2 separate regions of the Homo sapiens genome follow, and region 1 is linked to region 2. Evidence: fine-mapped expression QTL. Tissue or cell type: whole blood. Region 2 holds a variant in brackets; the other region holds the start of a gene. All regions are shown on one strand. Distances are between the middles of the regions.

What was found. PIP is the estimated chance that this variant, and not a neighbour inherited with it, causes the effect.
Region 1: it holds the start of ERMARD, and the variant in region 2 is fine-mapped to the expression of ERMARD in whole blood (TOPMed, PIP 0.93).

What each region holds. Positions count from the first base shown.
Region 1 is chr6:169,748,927-169,754,648 of GRCh38, reverse strand. ERMARD (ER membrane associated RNA degradation) reads right to left here and starts at 3,027. Exons shown (of 18, transcript NM_018341.3): 1 at 2,986-3,027; 2 at 617-785. The coding sequence starts at 2,991. DYNLT2 (dynein light chain Tctex-type 2) reads left to right here and starts at 3,077. Exons shown (of 4, transcript NM_174910.3): 1 at 3,077-3,310. The coding sequence starts at 3,191.
Region 2 is chr6:169,330,451-169,336,172 of GRCh38, reverse strand. LOC105378148 reads left to right here. Exons shown (of 4, transcript XM_017011621.2): 4 at 5,158-5,722. The coding sequence ends at 5,174. Among named protein-coding and RNA genes, the nearest start is that of LINC02519, 55 kb to the left of the region's middle. The variant A/T (reference allele first, on the strand shown) is at 3,153.

The DNA.
Region 1 (5,722 bases), 420 kb before region 2:
CCATTATATGAATTTATCATAATTTACTGAACCAATCCCCTACTGCTTGATGTTTGGCTGTTTATTTATTTAGCTATTATAAACAATGCTGCAAGGAATAACCTTGCACACACACATTTTCATATCTGTATCTGTCTTAAGGATTCCTGAAAACGGACTGCTAGGCCAGAGTATGTTCATCTGTAATTTTTATAACTATTATTAAATTTCCCCACCTATATCTCTGCTCCAAAGTGTGCAAGAATGTCTAGAAGACACTTAAAATAACTGTATAATCTATTACTGGTCATTTTCTACCCTTAATTCACATGACTCCTACAGAGAATCATCTCAAGGCCCTGAGATCTACATCATCAACAGCCCACCAGCCCCTCTGTGCCTCCTGACACCTCCTCTGTAGAGGTGGTTTTCTTAGCCCAGCTTTCCATTAACTTTTCCATGCTTCTCTGGCCTCATTCCCTCTCTTTTCACATTGATTCCTGTTCTCCTTGGAGTTAGGCCTGTATTATAACATTATCTAACAAAAGGAACCAATGGTCAGAAAGGGGAATTTTACAGGTCAAGACATTTTCAATGGGACAGTTATGAAAGTTTGGAGTACAAAGACAGCACAAACCTGACTCTGTGTAGCTCACACAGTCTGTGATTGTTTTCCAGCATACTTCACCATTCTGAGTTACAATGCTATTGATATCACAATTTTCTCTGAGTTGAAACCCAAGATTACAAATTATATCATACACTGAGGGAGAAAGACATGTGGTAATAGGGTCCCCTATTAATACCTAAAAAATAAAATAAAATAAAAGGCACTGCTTAACAGAAAGAAAAATAGAGTATTATATATTTCAGACACATCTCTTAAGAACTGAATGCACTCAGGTATAGTTGCTGTTAACATGCTTTCTGGATATCGTGAGAGCTGTATGATTAAAACATAGTGATTAAATATTAAAGATAATTTACATAAATGTTCTCAAATATGATAAAGGCTTAAAGACCTAAAATTATCAATCATAATATTTGCAAACTGCTCTGTCTATGGGGTAGCCATTGTTTATTCCTTTACTTTCTTAATAAACTTGCCTTTCACTTAAAAAAAAAAAAGAAAAAATACAAGTTCACGGAAGCTGAATGTGTTTTACGACCAGAGCATTATTGCTCTCAGCATTCCTTCACTATCCCAGAGTTATCAAAATAAGCAATTTTTTTAAATGGGGAATGGGAGAGCAGAAACCAAGTATAACGAACAAGAAGGAAAAAGAACCCCACGTACCTCTGACTACCTAAACGGTGTTGAAGAAAACCACAATGTCATCCCAAAACATGCCTCTTCGATATAAAAACAACAACAAATTTGAGCTGAAGACAAGAGGCAGCAAATGAAGGAAAAGCTCTCTCTATCCTCCCCCTCTTCCGCCCAAAGACAGGATATAAATTCTTTACTGGGGATAACTTTAGACTTACCAGACCAGTTAAGGTACCAGGGGAATCTGCAAACAATTCTTACTCCATTAGTTTCCGAATATGTATCTACCTTCCCAATTTCCTGCCCTTTGAAGCCTAAAACTGCTCTCCTGTGTCCTGTCACTTCTCTGCAAATCTACAGTTCTTTGTTGAAGATGGTATACAAATGTAGTTCTAAGCCACCATTTCAAGTTACTTCTCATTAAGGTTTATCCCTTGTGATGTGTACTCTGTCCAAGAATAAACTTTTTTCTTGTTATCCTTTCATTTGTTAAAGGGGTCACTCCGAACTAAGATGGGCAGAGGTAAAGTTTAGCCTTCCCTGCCATGTAAAAAGTAGCAAACCGTACTGGTTTTCCATGGAGAATTAAATACAATCGAAATCCTCACAATTACCCCACATGACACTAAGACCATCGTATAAACCTGCAAAGAAGTCAAATTCAGGATCTAAAGCGGAACCGAAGCTCTTTATTTTGGTGTGTTGAGTTAAGGGGGGGCTGTGTTGTGACAGTCATAATTAGCTCTGGGCAGCTTCCTAATGTGGAAACTGCTATCAGTTGCCCTGTTTGCTCCTCCTGCACCCAGAAGTTGCACTTTCCACTCTCAGCCCTGGTTTTCGAACAATCCCAGCAGGCCCTAACAATTAAGTCATCACTAAAGAAATCTACATCAACTATTTGTTGATTGGCGATTGTCACTCGCATCCTCCATGTGGCTCTATGGGGCTGGAACTCTGCAGACTACACTGGGCCGGTGCTTTGGAGCTGGACTTAAATTTGAATCATTCCTCAGCCTCTGACTACCTCTTGCCTTGGAAAAGTTACTTTATCGGAATCTCAGTTCTAAGTGAAATAAAACGGTGCCAGGCTGCACCTGGTAGGGCTACAGTAATCAGATAACACATGAAAAGCATCTAGCACATAGTACTCAAAAATGGTAGTTATCGTTATCATCATTTTGGAGACGGGGTCTCGCCGTCGCCCAGACAGGGGTGCAGTGGCGCGATCTCGGCTCACTGCAGCCTCCACCTCCTGGGCTAAAGCGATCCTTCCACCTCAGCCTACGGAGTAGATGGGACCACAGGCCCCACCACGCCCGGCGATGAACACAAATTTACTGTCCGAGTGTGGACCCTACAGGCAGCGACTAGGAAACTGCGCTTCTAGGAACGAGCCACGGTCAGGTGAGAGCCCGACCTGCGGCTTTCCGCCCCCGCGCCACCGCGCACAGCCCTCCCTGACCGTCCGCCGCGTTCCAGCTCAGGGCCAGGAGGCGACGGAGAAACCGAGCCTGGCCCAGGGAGGCCGGCAGGGCCCGCCAGGCGTCTTGCAGGGCCGAGCGTCCGATACCGCCACAGAGGCCAGGGCCGCGACGTCGCCAGCGCCCTCCAGCGCGGGACCGCCGGCCACCGCAGGCGCGTGCTCGCTCGCCCACTCCGCGTAGCCGAGCACCACCCAGCCTGGCGCCGACTCCCTGCCTAGCTCGGGATCGAACCGGGCCCTACACCCGCCCTACCTCCATAACTTCCGGTGCCCCGCTGCGGCGCGCGTGAATGACGCAGGCGCCTGCGCGCCCCTCCTCCAGGCGCTTTGGAGCCCTGGCGGGCACTTCCTACCGTACGAGGCGCAGGTGGGAGACTTCCGCCCTCGCGGGACTGGCTAGGGCGTTTGACCGCCGGCGGTGAAGGGGAGGCGGTGGGCGTCTTGGAGAACAGAGCGAGATGGAGAAGCGAGGCCGAGGCGTGAAGTCGAGCCCCATCCAGACCCCGAACCAGACCCCTCAGCAGGCTCCGGTGACGCCTAGGAAAGAAAGGAGGCCTAGCATGTTCGAGAAGGAGGCAGTGAGTGCGGAGACTGCTAGGGGCCCGAGACGGCTATGTCCGACCGTTTAAGTGAAATCGCTCCCCAGTGGGCCCCGCTCCCGTCACCACCCCCAGAGCCAAGGAGGCAGCATCTCCCTTTTGTGTTTCTTTTTTCCCCAGATGCGAAATTGAAGCCTGAGACTGAGTTGGGCAGTCCCCTTTGGACTTGAGTGCTAAAGTTTTCTTGTTTTTTAATTAGGGCCATAGAACCCTACATAAGTCGATTGGAAGGGTGGTTACAAGATCTTCTTTTCAAATTTACTCAGCTTGCGGATTTCCTGAGAGTACTCTGAGTATTATTGCTTTGTACTAAAACACAGTATGTTAGTGTATTTAGTGCCATTATAAGCAGTTTTGCTAGCGAAAAATGAGTGTGTTGTATTAAAAAAATAATTTGATAAACCAGGCAGAATAGTGCCATGTTTTGGGTTTTTAAAACATCAGCAGTCTGGATATTTGAAGAATGTACAGGAGAAAAAAACTTAAGTTGAAAATACCCTGTCCAAAACTTACTGATATTGATGGAAAGGGTCATTATTCAGTTTTATTGGTGGTATAACAGGTATTTCTATATGATTAGGCTTTGAAAACCGTTAATGTATTAAAGACTCTATATTTTATTGATACTTTAACAGAAAATTAGTTTGCCCAAGGATACAAAGCTGTAATGATAGAGCTGGGACCAGAACCTGTATGCTAGTACTCGGTCCAATTGGCCTATACTGGTTTCTCTTCGTACTTACTTCGTGGACCTATAATAGGATGAAGATAGAGATGACAGGCAAAACAATTTTTTGAAGACCCTAAAACATTTTAAGATTACTCTTAAAAAGAGAATTCTCAAAATAATGGCGAAATTTCAGGTTCTTGTTTCCCTGGTGTCTACATTTTACAGAGGAAAGAACGAACTAAATAAAGGAGGAAAAGCAAACAGGCCAAGTTTACACAGCTAAGAAAAAGAGCAGAGCAGGGCTAGAAACCTAAATCAGTTGGACTTAAAACTTCACACTCCCAAACACTATGCTGTATTTCTTGGCAATGAGTCTGAGTAACAGGTCACCAACAGTAAAGAAAAATTTCTATATATTGAGGCAGACAAGGGTGGCTTTTATAAACTTACTGCCTATCTGAGGTCTGAAGTGGTCTTTAAAATTCAATGAGCCTGAACTCAAAATGAGGAGACACATAGGTGCACCTGGTATATAGGTTAAAATCTGGGAGTGAGGGGACATGGACCAAAGTAATTATTAGTATTTGATATGGATGTGATCAATTATAGCTATCTTTAAAGTTGATTCTTTTAGAGGTGAGAAATTTGAATAGAACAATAATTGGGAAGAAATTGAGAAAGGACTCTACAAATGCTCACTAAATGTACCTGAGGAAACTGTTCACTTAGTTATTTCTAATTTAAGGTAGCTGTTAATTTCCCTATTTTGGAGCATAGGAAAATTTAAGACATACTGTTTCATCAATATGACCATCTCTTGATTTTATCTGTCTTGCCTCCATTTCTTTTTTTCTAGTGGTAGCACCTCAGTTAACTTTTAGAGAATTAACTCATCTGCAATTGTATAGAGCTTTGGTGAGATTGTCAGCTACTTCCCTTAACTTTTTAATAAGGATGAGACCCAAACTAAGCTAATTAGATGAATTCTTTGAAATAATGCAAAGAAAATGATTGAGGTTTATTCACATTGAAGATGAGAAGCTAAAGTGTTCCCTGTGTCTTTCTGAATCTGGTTCATCAGCCTTCTCTGCTGTTATGTAAACTGTATCTTTCCAATAAATTATACTTTGGCTTAACACGAATGAGTTCCTGTTGTTGCGATCAAAGGTAACAAAATGCGAAGTAGATTACTAAAATTGGAAAACGTGATTGTTCTCACTTGTGCACATGCATTGAAATTCTTAAATACAGCCGGGTGCAGTGGCCCATGCATGTAATCCCCACTTTGGGAGGCCAAGGCGGATGGATCACCTGAGGTCAGGAGTTCAAAACCAGCCTGGCCAACATGCCAAAACCCCGTCTCTACTAAAAATACAAAAATTAGCCGGGCTTGGTGGTAGGCACCTGTAATCCCAGCTACTCAGGGAGGCTGAGGCACGAGAATTGCTTGAACCCGGGAGGAGGAAGTTGCAGTGAGCCGAGATCATGCCACTGCACTCCAGCCTGGGCAACAGAGTGAGACTCTTGTCTCAGAAAAGAAAAAAAAAATCTTAAACACTAGCATGTGGCATTTAGAAATAAAAGTAATATCTCCTGCCCAAGCTCATTTTATTTTAGGGCTATATGTAGGCTCAATATAAGGAAATGCTATATCAGTAGAAACTCAGGTATTATTAGATGCCAAAAAGTTGATCATATTTAAAGCCTATTCCCAATTTAAA
Region 2 (5,722 bases):
TGGTTTTATAACTGTAAATGATAACTATCGCAGCTTTCATAAATCATCTAGGTAAATGATTAAAATAAATAATTAGATGAATGTAATTGGATAAATACTCATAAACAAACCTGTCATAATTTAGAATCTAAAGCTATATTAAATTTAATAACAGACATTTCATTATTTGGCTATTTTCCAATGAAAATATATTGTAGGAAAACATTCTTTCTAAATATTGTGTCCTTTTTTCAGGGTAATTAATTTTTGTCTAATCCAAAGCTTATTTAAAGGTTATATACAAAACAAGGTAAAAGAAACCAGAAAACAAGAGAGCTATAAAGAAAGTATAAAGAGAGTTTTAAAGATTATTGGTAACATGAAAATCTCCTAAAAAATGTAAACATTTGGACTAAATTATGCAGGTCAAATATTAGGTTTGCTAAATGTTTTTGGTCATAAACTGTTTCTTTGACTTACAAATTGTTCAATTTATTTTGGAGTGCTAAATTCTAGATAAGGCCTGGGGACACATGAAATTAACCATGCCCTTAGCTATGCAAAAAGGTATAAAGAAAAGAGATTTTATATAAGAAAGGATCTTGTATGGTAAATTCTTTCCTAAAAGTAAAATGACTGGTTGTTTAAAAAGAGGGATGTTTAGGACAAGTCAGAAAGTCAAGGCGTGTCGTAGCTTGTCTGTGTAGTCATGAAAGAATTTATGAAAGCGAATTTATGCAAGAAATATACAATTTAAAGGTGATTAGGCCTCCTAAATGCTGTATAAAATGCCACTATGACTCTTAGCCGCACAACTGCCTGCTTTACAGCTAGATATGGCCTGGGACACATGGAGTTAGATGCTGGAATAAGTCAGACTTTTTCTGCACTTCTGTCTAGGTCCTAGGCTTCACACCTAGTTCTTCATTCAAATCCCAACCTTACCAAGGTTTTCACCAAAAGTGAAGGTTCCTAAGAGTTAACAGAGTAACATGTATTTAAAGCTGTTGAAGAAATAGCAACATTCTTTATGTCAGTTTACGTGCAACGTGTGTAAGGAAAGTAAAATATATTTTTGGTAAAAAGATTATAAGGAGGCATGAGGATGTGGATTTTTTGCCTAGATTTAAAGTGTTGTTTTAAGTTAGATAAAATAAAGATGAAGGTTTAAGCAAGGTGTGGAAGGTTGATTGTAAGGGAAATTCTGTGTGTAAACACATTGGCTAAAGTTAAAGGAGTATCATCCAGTTTTTCTGTAAATTGAGCATTAAAATAAAAACACAATGGGTTTCTCTTAGAGCACTAACCTGCTCTTTAACAAAAACTGTAAAGGGTTAGAAAAGTTCTATAAAAATCTTACCTTATGGTCAAACATTAAAATTGGGTAAATATGTTTATAAGGTTTTATTAAGAATTGGGTGTAACTAATGTAAAGGGGAAATTTGACCTATTTGGTATAAACATTACACAGGAAGTATTGTTAGATATGAAATGGTGTTTGGCTGTCTTTGGGCTATATTTGTATAAATATGTTTTGGTATTTGTTTCAAAGTTATGGGAGACTCCTATATTTCTGATGTATCTTAGTGGACATTATCAGTAATAATTGTTATGTTAAATTATTGTGTGCCACAGAAGTAACAGATTTCCTTGTCAATTGTGTTTTTAACTATGCCTACCCTAAAACTTTTGTCATCCGTAAACGATTGTCTTGTTTTGGTCCTCTTTAGAAGGTGGTTTTATACTTAGCTGGAAAGCTCTCACAGGTGCTCTTGAATGTCATCCGTAAACAATTGTCTTGTTTTGGTCCTCTTTAGAAGGTGGTTTTATAATTAGCTGGAAAGCTCTCCCAGGTGCTCCTGAATGTCATCCATAAACGATTGTCTTGTTTTGGTCCTCTTTAGAAGGTGGTTTTATAATTAGCTGGAAAGCTCTCCCAGGTGCTCTTGAATGCAGGTTTCTGATAACTTTGAAGATTGTGACATTAGCATAGAAGAAAAACGTTCACGACTCTTGAAGAGCTAAAATATTTACTAATATCAAGTAGGACAGGAATGAACTGCATGAACTGAACTGATAGAAGACTGAAATGATCTTTTTGACTTTTGCTTAAAATGTTAAGCAATGTTGCTAATCCTTTGTTTTGCTTTTTCAGAGTCAAGGAAACTTTTGAGCTATTAATGGCTTTTAACAAGTATATTCTTATGAACAAAATTTGGGGCATATTTGTTTCTCTCTACCTGATTTCTCCAGAATTTGGAACTGTTTATATATAGTTATTTGCATAAATACAATAAGAATCTGTTTTCATTTGTAACAGGACACAATAGGAAAAACTGATTATTTTGCCAAGGCATTGGCTGGAATGTTGTGCTCTCCTTTTAGGAATCAAACTTGACTTATAAAGCCAACAAAGCCCTTGGAAACTGTCCTCTTATTCTGTGTACACAGTCCCTGCACAGGGGTTGTGATCTGTGGTAAGTAAAGAATGTCACTTTCTGACAGGCCGGGAACCCCAAGTTATCTTGAAACCTCACGAGGAAAGGAATTCATCCAACTCATAGGTATTTGATGAGATTCCAGGGACCAACTGCAGATTCTGGTGAAATACAGAAATCCTGCCCTGCCCCTTATGGCGGCCAGACCTCATATGGGCAGGACACAAGTGGGCAGTGATGGACGTGGTTTCCACAGGGGCAGAGCTTGGCTTCTTCAGGAGGTCATGAAGAGCTCTGGGAGCAAGAGCAGGGACCCATACCAGAAAGCAAGTTCCAGCATTGAGGAAACACACACACACACACAGCCAAAAGTGAACTCAGAGCTCTCCCTAAACCAACTCAACAGAGATGGATATTGACAGAATTGGAGGCAGATTTGGTTGAGCAAAAGCAAGCGGAGATCTCAGGAGGCTGCTTTGGCTGGCGGTGCCTCCTGTGTGAGCTGCTGGTGGGTAGAAAACAGGGGCATGGAGTTGGCTCTGAAGGCCGGGGACTGGGTGGCACACCGTGGAAACAGCCTTTCTACCCAAGTAACTGGCTCGTCTTCAAGGGATTTCAAGATGATTTCCTTCTAATGAAATATTCTTGTATTTCATAGTATTCTACTCACTTTTCTTCACATTAAACTATTCAATGATTGTGATATTCCATTTGAGAGAAGATTCCAAGTGAATT[A/T]TGAGATTGATTCCACATGATGTGTATCTTTTAAACCAACACTGTGTGCTCCAATGGAAGAAATATTCAAATAAGATTGGGAGCACATGCTAGTTTTTCTTTTATCATGATTTATGCAGCAAATGTTTTTAAAAAATCATCTTTGGGGATTTAGTAAACATTCGGTAGAATTCTATTTTTCCAGTAAAATTTGGAGTAATTCTTTTGTGTCATTGAAGAATTTTGGGTGAGTACAAGTTCATGTGTTTCTGTGATGTATAAACCTCTTCCTTATACTCAAAGGAATTATATAGTGCTAGAACTCCTTGATTAAAGCAACATTTTATTTCTAATTCTTTTTTAGTATCATAAAGTAGGTTTATGTCCAAAAGATCATGCTACGAATGGTGATGGAGTCCAGTCACACCCGTCTCTCTCCAGAGTCATCGAGCATTCCTTTTATCTCCCTCCTTCTCACCAGAACCTTCCAAGGACCATGAGATAACCTTGGGGGTTGGGGCCCACGTTTTTGCCTTGGTGTAGCCTGGAGCTGGGAGATCCACTAACCCCTGCGGAAATCCAGCCGTGGCCGGTGGCTTATTGATGGCATGCTTTCAAATGTCACCAGTCCGCAGACACACGGAATACTCATCTACCCTCATGAACAAGGCAGAGTGGCCCTTTCCCATCTCCGTCTATATGTGTAGTATTCAGAACACAGTTTAAATGCCTTTCAGCTTCCTAATATCCAGTCCTCCTGCATCATCTTATGTCTGCAGGTTGTGTGCAGGCAGCTGCTGAAAGGAGCCCAGGTGCCCCCAGACCGTGCACACAGCTGTGTGCTGAGGTCAAATCACTGCCAGGGCCGTGTTCTGACTTCCCCTGAGAGCTCTGCCCTGCTGCCCTGCAGTGCCGTGAAAAGAGGGAAGAGGGAATGTGATACCATCTACTCTTCTTGTTCCGTGCACATGGTTTCTATTTGGAATTATGACATTGTGGAATTCAGGTGCCGTCTATACACACTATTTGTCTCTTGTAAGAAATTATACTCTGATTTGGCCTCATGTACTTTGATATTTGTGATCAAACTAGACGATGAAAGCTACATATAAAACCAGAGATAAAGACAAAAGTCCAAGTTATTCACAGATAGCCTAAACAGACACCAGTAAATGCAATATTTATGTGTATTCAGAAAAACAAACTATAGTAACCATATGCATAGAGAATTGAGTCAAATATGTTGTTGATATTTTTACTTCCTGCCTATATGGCTCTGTGTGTGATGTCTATGTTTCTTCCAGGACGTGACTTAAGGAGACCACCCAAATTTGGCATCTTTTCCCTCTTTTTCAAAGTAGATTTGGGATTAATTATAGTCATAGCCATCATTTGTAGACAATTTAATTTTAAAGTGCATTTTATTTGTCTATACAATATTATATGTATAATAGGACAGACTCAGAACCTAACTGCTTGGGTTCAAATCTGAGCCTGACTTCTTACTTGCTGTGTGACTGTGGGCAATTCTGTTTACTTCTCTTCTTCAATTTGCTCACCCGTAAAGTAAGGAGAATAAGAGCAGCAGCCTGTCGGTGGTTAAGGGATTGAAATGAGTTACTATTTGTAAAGAATTTAGAATAGTGCCACAGAAGTCTCTGTGAAATTACACAAACTGTCTCATTTAATTCTCTTTCCAGCATGCTAAGTAATGTTATTTCTCTCCTTTCTGAGAGGTGAAAGGACTTGTCCAAAATAATACAGTGACTTTACTCTCCCAGCCCCAAACCCTCTCTGGTGTATTTAAACTGAGGAGACTTGTGGAAGAGCCTGTTCTCAGAGAGTGTTCTGCCTACCTAGACAGAGTGTTTTAAGCAGCCGTGATCACATTCACTATCGTCACCAGCATCCTCATCATCAACAGACCTGCACTCATTGCTTTACTGTTCATATCAGTGGTCTAGTAGCTTTAAAATGAGCCCAGTACATAATTCCCTCAGTCTCTCACTGTCTTTATTAAATGCAGGCACCTTCTGGGGATAATGGCAGGGGCAGTGTCTTCCTCACCGCTGGGGCTTCATGCTTCCTGTGTCTGCAGTCTACTTCTTCAAACAAACAGAAGTTTTATAGAATCCATTTCACCCGTGCCCTAGTGCGTTCCAAGGACTCCAGAAAAACACCTTGCCCCACCTGTTCTCATAAGAGGACTGCTCCCCTGGGAATCAACACTGTGAAAATGGCCACATTGCCCAAAGCAGTCCACAGATTTGATGCAATCCCTACCAAAACAACAACATCGTTTTCACAGAATTAAGAAAAACAATCCTAAAATTCACATGTAACAAAAAAAGAGCCCGAATAACTAAGGCAGTCCTAAGAAAAATGCTGAAGGCATCTCGCTACCTGATCTCAAGTCATACTATAAGGCTATTGTAACCCAAACAGCATGGTATTAGTATGAAAACAGGCACATAGATCAGTGGAACAGAATAGAGAACCCAGAGATAACGCAGCATATCTACAGCCAACTGATCTTTGACAAAGTCAACAAAAATATGCACTGAGGAAAGGACTCCCTTTTCGATAAATAG